Regions from separate parts of the Homo sapiens genome. Here region 2 is linked to region 1. The links come from fine-mapping of genetic effects on plasma protein levels. A gene starts in region 1. The other region holds a variant in brackets. All regions are shown on one strand. Distances are between the middles of the regions.

What was found. A credible set is the group of variants that fine-mapping cannot tell apart. PIP is the chance, under the fine-mapping model, that this variant and not a neighbour inherited with it causes the effect. The UK Biobank Pharma Proteomics Project read protein levels with antibody pairs (Olink). The fine-mapping took linkage between variants from a reference panel, not from the people measured, so its PIPs are less certain.
Region 2: its variant is the best candidate, but not a certain one, in a credible set for the plasma level of the CASP8 protein (UK Biobank, PIP 0.81).

What each region holds. Positions count from the first base shown.
Region 1 is chr2:201,258,195-201,263,413 of GRCh38, reverse strand. CASP8 (caspase 8) reads right to left here and starts at 2,878. Exons shown (of 9, transcript NM_001372051.1): 1 at 2,801-2,878. RefSeq lists enhancers at 4,574-4,993, 5,014-5,073, 5,070-5,214, 5,174-5,219 and a cis regulatory region at 5,142.
Region 2 is chr2:201,227,770-201,233,287 of GRCh38, reverse strand. It overlaps a transcript of CASP10 not described here. Among named protein-coding and RNA genes, the nearest start is that of CASP8, 30 kb to the left of the region's middle. RefSeq lists an enhancer at 854-1,103. The variant G/A (reference allele first, on the strand shown) is at 2,881.

The sequences.
Region 1 (5,219 bases):
AGTACTTTCCTGTCTTTAGTTTTTCTTCTACAGCATGGGTTTTAATATCTGTAAGGCACTTAATCTTAGAGATGGGCTATAATTTACATAGCCAGTTCCTGATTACATTTAGGATGACTTTAAAACGCAAATCTTTAAGAATACCTCTAATTATTTTCTTAGAATAATTTCCTAAAAGTAGTATTATGGTGTCAAAATGAATAAACCTTTTTGAGGCTCTTGTTACACATTCAATAGCATTTTCTGACAGTATATAATAAAAATCAATACAATCCAAGGCTGAGATGACATGAATTTGGATATAATAAGATTGGCGCATAGCTCCGTCCTCCATAGCCATCTCATCTCACTCATTTCATTACCTTTTCAACAACGTGACAATGCTTTTTAAGTGGTTTCCCCATCAAATCATAACTGACATTTAGAAGGGAAAATGCTAACGTGGCTTCTTCTCTGGCCTAGGTGTTCCAGGATACACTGTCAGATGATAGTCAGCCTTTTCTGTTTTTTGTTTTTTGCTTAAGTTACACATCCCTCTAGTCATAGTACCTAGAAAACAGTCACTTGCAAAGGATTTATGACACCATTAACAACGGGCCATCCAGCACTGTAAGGGGAGAGACATCGTGTGGCAGTTCTTGTTTTATGGGACCTAGATTTTCTGCACTAGCTTATGGGCTAGAAACTTTGTTAAGCTAGTATTTTTTAAACAATGTACTTGTATTTTTGGTTCCTAAAAACAGTAAAAGTAACACTTGTTTCATAGAGAAAGTACAGAGAAGTATAAAAAGAAAATAAAAATTACTTAAAAACTTGCCATTTGGAAGTAATTCTTTGGTCACATTTTGTGGCCTTTTCCCAATTTTTTTTCCACATGTATATATAACATATGTAAATTTGAATATGTTGCCATGTAATACATATATTTTATATAATCTCTGCTAAATAGTAAATGTATATAAGTCTATTTGTATTACATAAGTATATTTATTATTTTATATATTTATGCCCCAAAGTATTTAAATATAAATATGTGTTTATAATAATCATATAAATAAATGATATATAAATGTTTGTAATCTATATATCCATATAAACATAAAAATATTTTTTAACCTCATTTCACTAAAAGCCTCTGAAGAAACTACTATTACTGTCCCCATTTTTCTGTTGTGAAAAATCACGGCTTGGAAATAAGCTAGTAAGAGAGAGAGCCACAGCCAGATTTAAGTGTCTCACTCAAGGGCTTCAGTGACAGATCACAAAGATTTAGACGTCATTCTACTTGCAGCTGGAAGGCAGTGAAAGAATCTCATGAAGAAAAACATAAAATCATAACTTTTTTAGAGAACAACATTTCAAAAAATTTTATAATAACAAAGCCACAAAAACAGAAGTTCTTAACAAATCCACTATAGGAGAGGGGGTTAGAGCCTCACAAAGGAAGTGCTAGAATCTAGGCCCCAGCATCTCATTCCAGAGTCCCATTCTACCACTGTATTACATGTCACAATTAAACTGTAAATACATTCCATCTCATCACAATCATTCCAGTAATATTCTAGCAGCATCCTAGCTCTTGCAGTGATAACTAAAAAGCAAAACATGCATTTGCCATCGGAAGCAGAAACCTGCATCTCATCCGAAGCTTGAGAGAACCTGAAAGCCACTCGCTCTCAGGCCCAAACCCCTAACCGGCAGGTAGTATTGCCACTCCCTCCAATCCAGGCTGGCTGCCTCAGACTGCGGGCTGCCCCGGAACCTGACAGACATCCATTCTGCACGCACATGATGTCCATAACAGGGCGCTGCAGCCACGGCATTCAAACAACCCAGCAAAGGTGTCCAAACCTCAGCAAAACATATAATCCCATCATTTTCAAACAGAATGAAACTTGCAACTTCACCTGTAAATTCTTAACCCCACAAGTGCAGGTCTCTGATTGTGTCTATCTAGTCTTCCCATTATATTGTTTTTTGAACTGTTCTGTATCTTTTTAATTTTTTTTTTTTTTTTTTTTTGAGACGGAGTTTCGCTCTTGTTGCCCAGGCTGGAGTGCAGTGGCACGATCTCGGCTCACCACAACTTCCACCTCCCAGGTTCAAGCGATTCTCCTGCCTCAGCCTCCCGAGTAGCTGGGATTACAGGCATGCGCCATCATGCCCGGCTAATTTTGTATTTTTAGTAGAGACGGGGTTTCTTCATGTTGGTCAAGCTGGTCTCAAACTCCCGACCTCAGGTGAACCACCGCCTCGACCTCCCAAAGTGCTGGGATGACAGGCGAGAGCCACCACGCCCAGTCTTTTTTAATTTCTTTAAAAAATAAATAATTGAATTAGTAGGACCACATGGGTGTGTTTGTGTGTATGTGTGTGTGCGTTTATGTTGGCAAGTGTGTATGTTGGTGGGTATGTGTGTTGGTGGGAGGATAGCTGTAGCAGCAAAGTCAGTAGAGATTTAAATTTTGGCTTCTATTATTTCACAAGTTTGACTGGGATCAGGATGAGGCCTTTATACAAGTAGTTAAACTTGCAGCATTTCAGAAGCTCCTAGGACTTCATCAGTCTAAGCTAGAATGGCCTTCAGATCTGGAAACTGCACGGCCCTCGGCAAGGCTCTCAGAGGGACTGCTACCTCTTACACTAACTTCATGGTTTCCCCATCCACACTCACATACGAGGATCACCTCCATGGCCCCAGGGCCACCCGATCTCACTCTCAGCAGCCTAGAAAACTCCAGAATCAAAGGCCTTCCTCCCAAAAGGCCCCTCTGACCTTAACAAAGAGGCAAATCCTTACCTTACTCTCACGATGGTAGCACCTTCGTCACAGGCCTATCCACTACCATCTGAGCATCTAAGACAAGAGCAAACGTCTAATGAAGGACGGAAGGGCACAGCCAGCCAGCTCTACTTCCTGTTTCGAAACTCCTGAGTCACAAACACTAGAGGGGAAAGAGCGCTTACCACTTGCCCCTGAGTGAGCAGAGTGCCTTCTAAAGCTTCTAAAGCTGCAGGAAAAAGGCCTGGTGGTCCAGGAGACCGCACGCAGGGCACCTGGCCACCTGAGCACTGGCCCCTGGCTGTGACTTTGGATGGGCCATTTTACCTTTGGGGCCTCATTTCCACATTCCAAAACAAGGACGTTGGACTGGATTGTAACTAAGAACACTTTCATTTCATATTTAGGATTTAAAGATTTTTCTGGGTTCATCATTAAGACTTTAATTTTTTCATTCAATGAATCTTGATGGAGCACCTCAGAGAGGTCTTGAGATTGGACACTGCAGAGCCCTCTCATCTTGGTTCTCAGGGTGGCTGTGAACTTTCAGAGCTAAAGCCCCTGGTTTAGCCAAGGAGCATCTCTGTGGCCCCAAGGTCACCAGATTCCACCCTCAGCAGCCTAAAATACTCTAAAATTAAAAAAAAAAAAAAACTCTAAAAAGAAAAAACTCTAAAATGAAAAACCTCTAAAAAGAAAAAACTCTGAAATAAAAAAATTCTAAAATGAAAAAAATCTAAAAAGAAAAAACTCTAAAATGCAAAAACTCTTTGGTAAGATGGTAAGTCCATCTTACCAAAGGTGATCCTTGTATATGAGTGTAGCTGAGGAAACCATGAAGTTAGCTGAAAGCTGGGTTTACCATCTTATCAAAGAAGCAAATCCTGGGGCCCTCACCATGTTGGGCTCTAGGGATATACCAGTAAACAAAATATTGCCTTCATACTGAGAGTTAGATGAAATGTTTTCTGATATTAAAAGTAGGAAAAGAAAATCAAACACCTCTCTTCTTTGAAACTGCCTTTTGTCTTTCCCCAAATAGAATATAAGCTTTCAGAGGGTAGGGACTCATAGCTGAGAAGACTGAACGAAGTATCTGAAAAGGACTCTTCACCAGAGAGGGCTAGGTCAAGATGGCCTCATAATATCAATGCCTGGATGGCCACCGTGGCTCATGCATGTAATCCTAGCACTTTGAGAGGCCAAGGTGGGAGGATCCCTTGAGCATAGGAGTTTGAGACCAGCCTGGGCAACAAAATGAGACACCATCTCTATGAAGAAAAATTTTTTAATTAGCCAGGTGTGGTAGCACGCGCCTGTGGTCCCAGCTAATCTGAAGGCTGAGATGGGAAAATTGCTTGATCCCAGGATGTTGAGGCTGCAGTGAGCCGTGATTGCACCACTGCACTGCAGCCTGGGTGACAGAGCAAGACTTTGTCTCAAAAAATAAATAAATAAAAAAGAAATAGAAACAGAATGAGCAAAATAAAATACCAATAGTATTAATATGCAATAATAATTGCTAACTCGTGTAGTAAGTGATGTATGCGTATTATCTCCTTCAAGCCTCACAGTCACCTCTGGAGGCATTATTAATCATTTAATGATGAGATAACAGAGGCACAGAGGAATTACTTGCCTGAGATCGCATAGTTAAAAAACAGTGTACACATACAAAAGAAAAATACATTTTGCAAAGATACAGATAAATTCACGAATCCACATCAAAACATTAGAGAACTGTCTTTGGGGAACAAGAGAGAGGGCAGGAGGGCAAGGGTGGGGGTGGAGAGATAAAAGGAAACCCTTCAGACACGGAAGAGGGGGAAGGGGCTGTGCACCTCAGGGCATCGTGATTCGACAGAATGACAGAATAAAGTACTTAACCGTCGGCCCCAGGGCCAAATGAAAAAGAAAAAAAAGTGGATTGATAAAGTCTTCTGGACTCTCCAAACGGGTCCACAGGAGGGAGACCGTGTATCTGCATTCGAGGCGGCAGGGAAGCTTGGAGGACAAAAAGGTAGCAGAGGAACTGGAGACTGCTCAGAGTGAAAAAGTAGCAAAGTCAGAGGCAACGGCTCAGAGAGAAACCACACAGGAGACCTGGGCCAGGCAGCACCCAGAGGTGTCCTCAGAAGGGCAGATCCAAGTTGCTTCCCCACCCCCACAGCCCTGTTTCTAGAGCAAGTCAAGAAACAAAAATATTGTGGTTTCCTGTTGAAGAGGCCACCTTGGCAACAGGCACTCACCCGCTCCACCCTTTCCTGGCACCATCGCAGTCTCCGAGTCCCCTAACCTGCCTAACTCCACGTGCTCAGCAGGGAAGGGGGTGGGAAAGGCTCCCAGGAAGAAGTTTCTTTTACTTTCAATAACCACCCTGGCTCTTCTGCCTCCCTCCATGGCCTCACTTCCTGTTGAGTTGACTAGCAAATTCAGC
Region 2 (5,518 bases), 30 kb after region 1:
TAACTGGTTTATTTTCTTCTTGGAAAAATAATTTTTTTAAAAAATATACCTTATCTATGCACACAAAGCAGCCCCCCAATTCATGAATGGATATGCTTGTGGTTTGTATTTGCGTTTTAATTACTAAGCAATCTGGCTCATCCCTTTGTGCAAAGCATTGCCTTAGGTTACAGTGTAGGAAACTGTATCAGCTCATCCTAGCACTGTTATAAAGAAATACCTAAGACTGGATAATTTATAAAGAAAAGAGGTTTAACTGGCTCACAGTTCCACAGGCTGTACAGGAAGCATAGTGACATCTGCTTCTGGGGAAGCCTCACTGTATTTATTTATTTGAAGGACTGATTTTTTAACAAAGTGAAAACTTCTCCCATGGCCTCTTCAATGCTTCCTTGAGGTCCCCGCTGTTAACATTTTGATTCTTTCAGACTTTTTCCTAGGCTTATAAAGCCATAGTAATTCTTGCTCTGCCACTTACTAGCTGCGTGACCTTGGGCAAGTTACTTAACGTCTCAGTGCCTTCCTCGGCTCATTCATAAAGTAGCTATAATGATTCCTGCATGTGAAGGTTATTATGAGAACAAAATGAGTTAATACATGCAAAATACTTAGCTCCTGGCATGCAGAGTAAAGACATAAATACATAATAAGTAGAAACAAATATTGTTTTATATACAGAGAGACAAAGAGAGACATCACATATACCATTTTGTTTACAAAAGCAGGGTAAGTATACTGTGCCAGTATCAATCATTGTGTTGCATCTGAGCTCCAAGTCCACTCTGTTCTCTTTGGTGACACCAAGCTACATCCCATAAAAAGATCTCCTTTGCTAGCGGCACAATTTTACTGGCTTTGTCAGTAGAGGGCGCCAGAGGGACGGTGCAAGGCCTAGCAGAGGACTGGATTTCTCTTCCGGGTTCTGGTGCTTCTCTTCCTGCTCTTAACGCCATGACTGCCAGCAGCTTGTAGAACCAGTGGTGCTCACCTTCAGGGAACTTTGGCAGCCTCCCAGCGGGCAGCTTCCTGCTCACCAGCCGGGGCCTGCTGACTGCAGACAGCTTGAGTGCTCTTGTACCTTTAGCAGTTAGCCTTCTTTTACTAGTTAATAATTCTTCATATTACATTTTCCCTTTCAAATTACTGGTGTGCTTTCCATCTCTAACTGGACCCTAACTTTTAGCTCATGCCTGGTATCTACCAGATGGCTTGTAAAATTTATTTAACCATTCCCCTACTGAAGGGAATGTGAGTATTATCGTTTCCAGTTTTCAGCTGTTATACCCTGTGCAGTAGTGAACATGTGTTTTTCATCCACATCACTGTTTTTGAAGGAAAAAAAATCCTGGAAGAGGAATAAATTTCTCTGCCATAGGGTTGTGCATGTAAGTCTTTGGAAAATGTTGTGAGATTGCTCTCCCTATAAGGTTGCACCAATTTATATTTCCAAACATAGGTGTAAGTGCCCACTTCCCCACACCCTCACCAATTATTATTTTTCTTTAACATTTACTAATCTTAGGGGTAATGTCTCATTGTTTTAGTTTGTTTTGTGCAATTACTAAGGAGACTGAACATTTTTTCATAACTTCATTGTCAATTTTTATTTTTTCTGTGAAACACATTGCTTATATCCCTTATTCATTTTTTAGTTGGATTGTCACTTTTTTCTAATTCATAGAAATTATTTGTTGATTCATTCCTAAAAGTGTGTATAGTTTTACAGATTTTATTAAGGGCCTTCATTCTTAGTTATGTAGCAAATATTTTCCCCGATTCATTTCATGTCTTTTTTTATGTGATGAAATACACATAACATAAAAATTACCATTTTCATCATTTTAAGTGTACAGTTCAGTAACATTAAGTACATTAATACTGATGTGTAACCACCACTCATCGCCAAAACATCTTCATCTTCCTAACCTTCATTGTATGTCTTTAAATTCATTCTTTGTGTCTTATATTATACAAAAGTTTTACATTTTTATCTATTCTAATTTATCAACCTTTTCCTTTATGACTTCTGGCTTTTACATCTTGTGTAGGGAAATTTTTGCTGGTGCTGTATTTTCTATATTTTCTTTTAATACCTTTCTAGACTTGTTTTAACATTTTATCTTTAAGCCATTTGACATTTTTGTGCTGGTATGCATGGTCTGAGGTGGGCTTCTAACTTTACTTTCTTGCAGGTGGGGACCTGATTATCCTAACACCTTTTTTAAAAAATCCATCTTTTCGCCTGGTGCAGTGGCTCATGTTTGTAATCCCAGCACTTTGGGAGGCCGAAGCAGGCGGATCACAAGGTCAGGAGATCGAGACCATCCTGGCTAACACAGTGAAACCCCGTCTCTACTAAAAATACAAAATATTAGCCGGGCGTGGTGGTGGGTGCCTGTAGTCCCAGCTACTCGGGAGCCTGAGACAGGAGAATCGCTTGAACCTGGGAGGCGGATGTTGCAGTGAGCCGAGATCGCGCCACTGCACTCCAGCCTGGGTGACAGAGCGTGACTCCATCTCAAAAAAGAAAAAAAGATCCATCTTTTTTTGATTATTTTATTATGTCACTTTTGCCAAAAAGTACCTGCCTTCTCTCCCAAAGCAGATTATCATTTCCTAGAAGGGAGGGACATTTCTTGTATCCATAAGTTTCCTCCTGACCTGGCAGATTGTACATGTTATACATGTTGGTTGGTGATATGACTGATAGGAAGCTGAATGAGAACTAGCACATTTTTAACAAAGCAAAGCAGCAGGTATCAGAACTCAGAATCAAATAAAAGCTGTCCCCCAATTCATGAATGGATATGCTTGTGGTTTGTATTTGTGTTTTAATTACTAAGCAATCTGGTTCATCCCTTTGTGCAAAGCATTGCCTTA[G/A]GTTACAGTGTAGGAAACTGTATTAGCTCATCCTCACACTGTTACAAAGAAATACCTAAGACTGGATAATTCATAAGGAAAAGAGGCTTAATTGGCTCACAGTTCCACAGGCTGTACAGGAAGCATAGTGGCATCTGCTTCTGGGGAAGCCTCAGAGAGCTTTTATTCATGGCAGAAGGCAAAGCAAGGGCAAGCATCTTACATGGCAGGAACTTGACCAAGAGAGTGGGGAGGTGCCACACACATTTAAACAACCAGATCTCATGAGAGCTCTATCACAAGAACAGCACCAAAGGGATGGTGCTAACCCATTCATGAAGGATCCATCCCCATGATCCAATCACCTCCACCAGGCCCCACCTCTGACATGGGGGATTACCTTGACGTGTGATTTGGGCAGGGACACACATCCAAACCATATCAGAAACAGAGGATGGGTAAGATATTGTTTCTGCCCTTATGAAGTTTGTGATCCCTAAATGCCCATCACTAAGGTGCTAGCTGGAGCACTGATGATCCATACATTCAATGGAGCTGTAGCAGTCATGAAAAGGATCAAGCAGATCTATATGTTCTGTTGCCCAGGCTGGAGTGCAATGGCACGATCTCGGCTCACCGCAACCTCCGCCTCCCAGGTTCAAGCGATTCTCCTGCCTCAGCCTCCCTAGTAGCTGAGATTACAGGCATGTGCCACCACGCCTGGCTAATTTTGTATTTTTAGTAGAGACGGGGTTTCTCCACGTTGGTCAGGCTGGTCTCGAACTCCCGACCTCAGGTGATCCGCCCACCTCGGCCTCCCAAAGTGCTGGGATTACAGGCATGAGCCACCGCACCTGGCTCCAAGATATGTTAAATGAGCTAACCAAGGTGCAAAACAGTCTGCTAGTGTTTGTGGGGGGAAAATGAGGGAAGGACACAAATACACATATGCTTATATAAGAATAAAATATCTCTGAAAGAATATTCAAAACATTAGAAACAATAATTATCTCCATAAAAGGCACTGAAAGTTTGGGGGACAGTGTGAAATTCACTTTTCCCCATGGACCATTTGTTTAAATTGTTTAACCATCCGCTTGTAGTTCTATTTCTAAATAAAGAAAATGGGAATTTTAGAAGTATGTTTACGATGAAACAAGAAAGATGACACAGGTACACGTGAAACAGTAAGGGAACAGAAGAGTGCCACGTTCAGAAGTCTCAACTTTGTGGCTGCAGAATCGCAAGGTGGTGCTGTAAAGGGAGGTTTCCGTCTTGCTGTAGGGCGTTGTCAATCTCAGGCGATGTGGCTGGAAGGCAGGCAGAAGGAAGCCTCTGGAAAGAACTAGGAAACGCTGCTCCACCTGCGCATGGGGGGTCGAGGTGTCTGCGCAGAGATGGCCGTGGGCAGGGAGGTTGCTGAGATCTGTTTAGCACCCCACACTGTTCTCTTCCTGCCCCTGATTTCCATTGTCTTTTCCAGAAATTTCAGCATCCTACTGAGCACAAAGAGAAATAAAAGGGGAACTTTGACTGAGTGGTTTTTCACACACAAGGACCTGGAGAGGCTGGACCCCGGCATAGCTTTTTTATGGGCAGCTGTACTTTCAATTCCTGGCAGAATGACTCATATTTCTCATCAGTAATGGAGCAGTCTATTTTTTTATTTGTTTACAATCTTCAAGATAAACCAAGCCCATTTCTCACAGGCCTAAAACTGTTGATAAAGTTGGCTTGTCCTTGATGTTTCAAGATGATAACTCAAGTGGAGAGGCCATGGCTCCTATCTCCAAGACTACTTAGTTTCTCTGGGCCTTGATTTTCTGATCTGTAAAATGGGAACTAAAACACCTCTCCATCACTCTCAGCAACATTTTTAGCAGCAGCAGGTGGCTAAACCCAAGGGCTGGAGTTGTTAATTTGGCAGCAGCAAGAAGCCCCAGGCCAAAACTGGCTCACTGTGCCCTTGCAGTGTGGCCAGACTGAGCCTTCAGAAAGGCATGAGTGGTAGGGGTGAAGATTCTTACTCTCTCATCCCTTCTGCCCTAGTGGAAGGATCCTTCTGAAGTTTCTAAGGAATTTTTTTTTTAGAGGGAGTCTCGCTGTGTCACCTAGGTTGGAATGTAGTGTCACTGGCACGATCTCAGCTTACTGCAACCTCCACCTCTCAGGTTCGAGCAATTCTTGTGCCTCGGCCACTGAGTAGCTGGGACTACAGGTGTACATCACCACACCCGGCTAATTTTTGCATTTTTAGTACAGACAGGGTTTCACCATGTTGGCCAGGCTGGTCTCATACTCCTGGCCTCAAGTGATATGCCTGCCTTGGCCTTCCAAAGTGCTGGGATTACAGGTGTGAGCCACCATGCCCTGTCTCTAAAGACCTTTTTGAAGGTTCTTCAAATGGTGAAATAGCAGCCTTATCCAATAGAGTGCTGAGCTTCTAATTGTGCATTCAGAGTGGAGGAATGCCAGCAGCAATTTGGGCGTTGTGGGTGTCATGGTGAAGATGACTGATTCTGTAGAGGAACCCCTTGACTTAACACTTATTTGTTAGAAACCGGTTTGGGGGCCGGGCGCGGTGGCTCACACCTGTAATCCCAGCACTTTGGGAGACCGAGACGGGCGGATCACAAGGTCAGGAGATCAACACCATCCT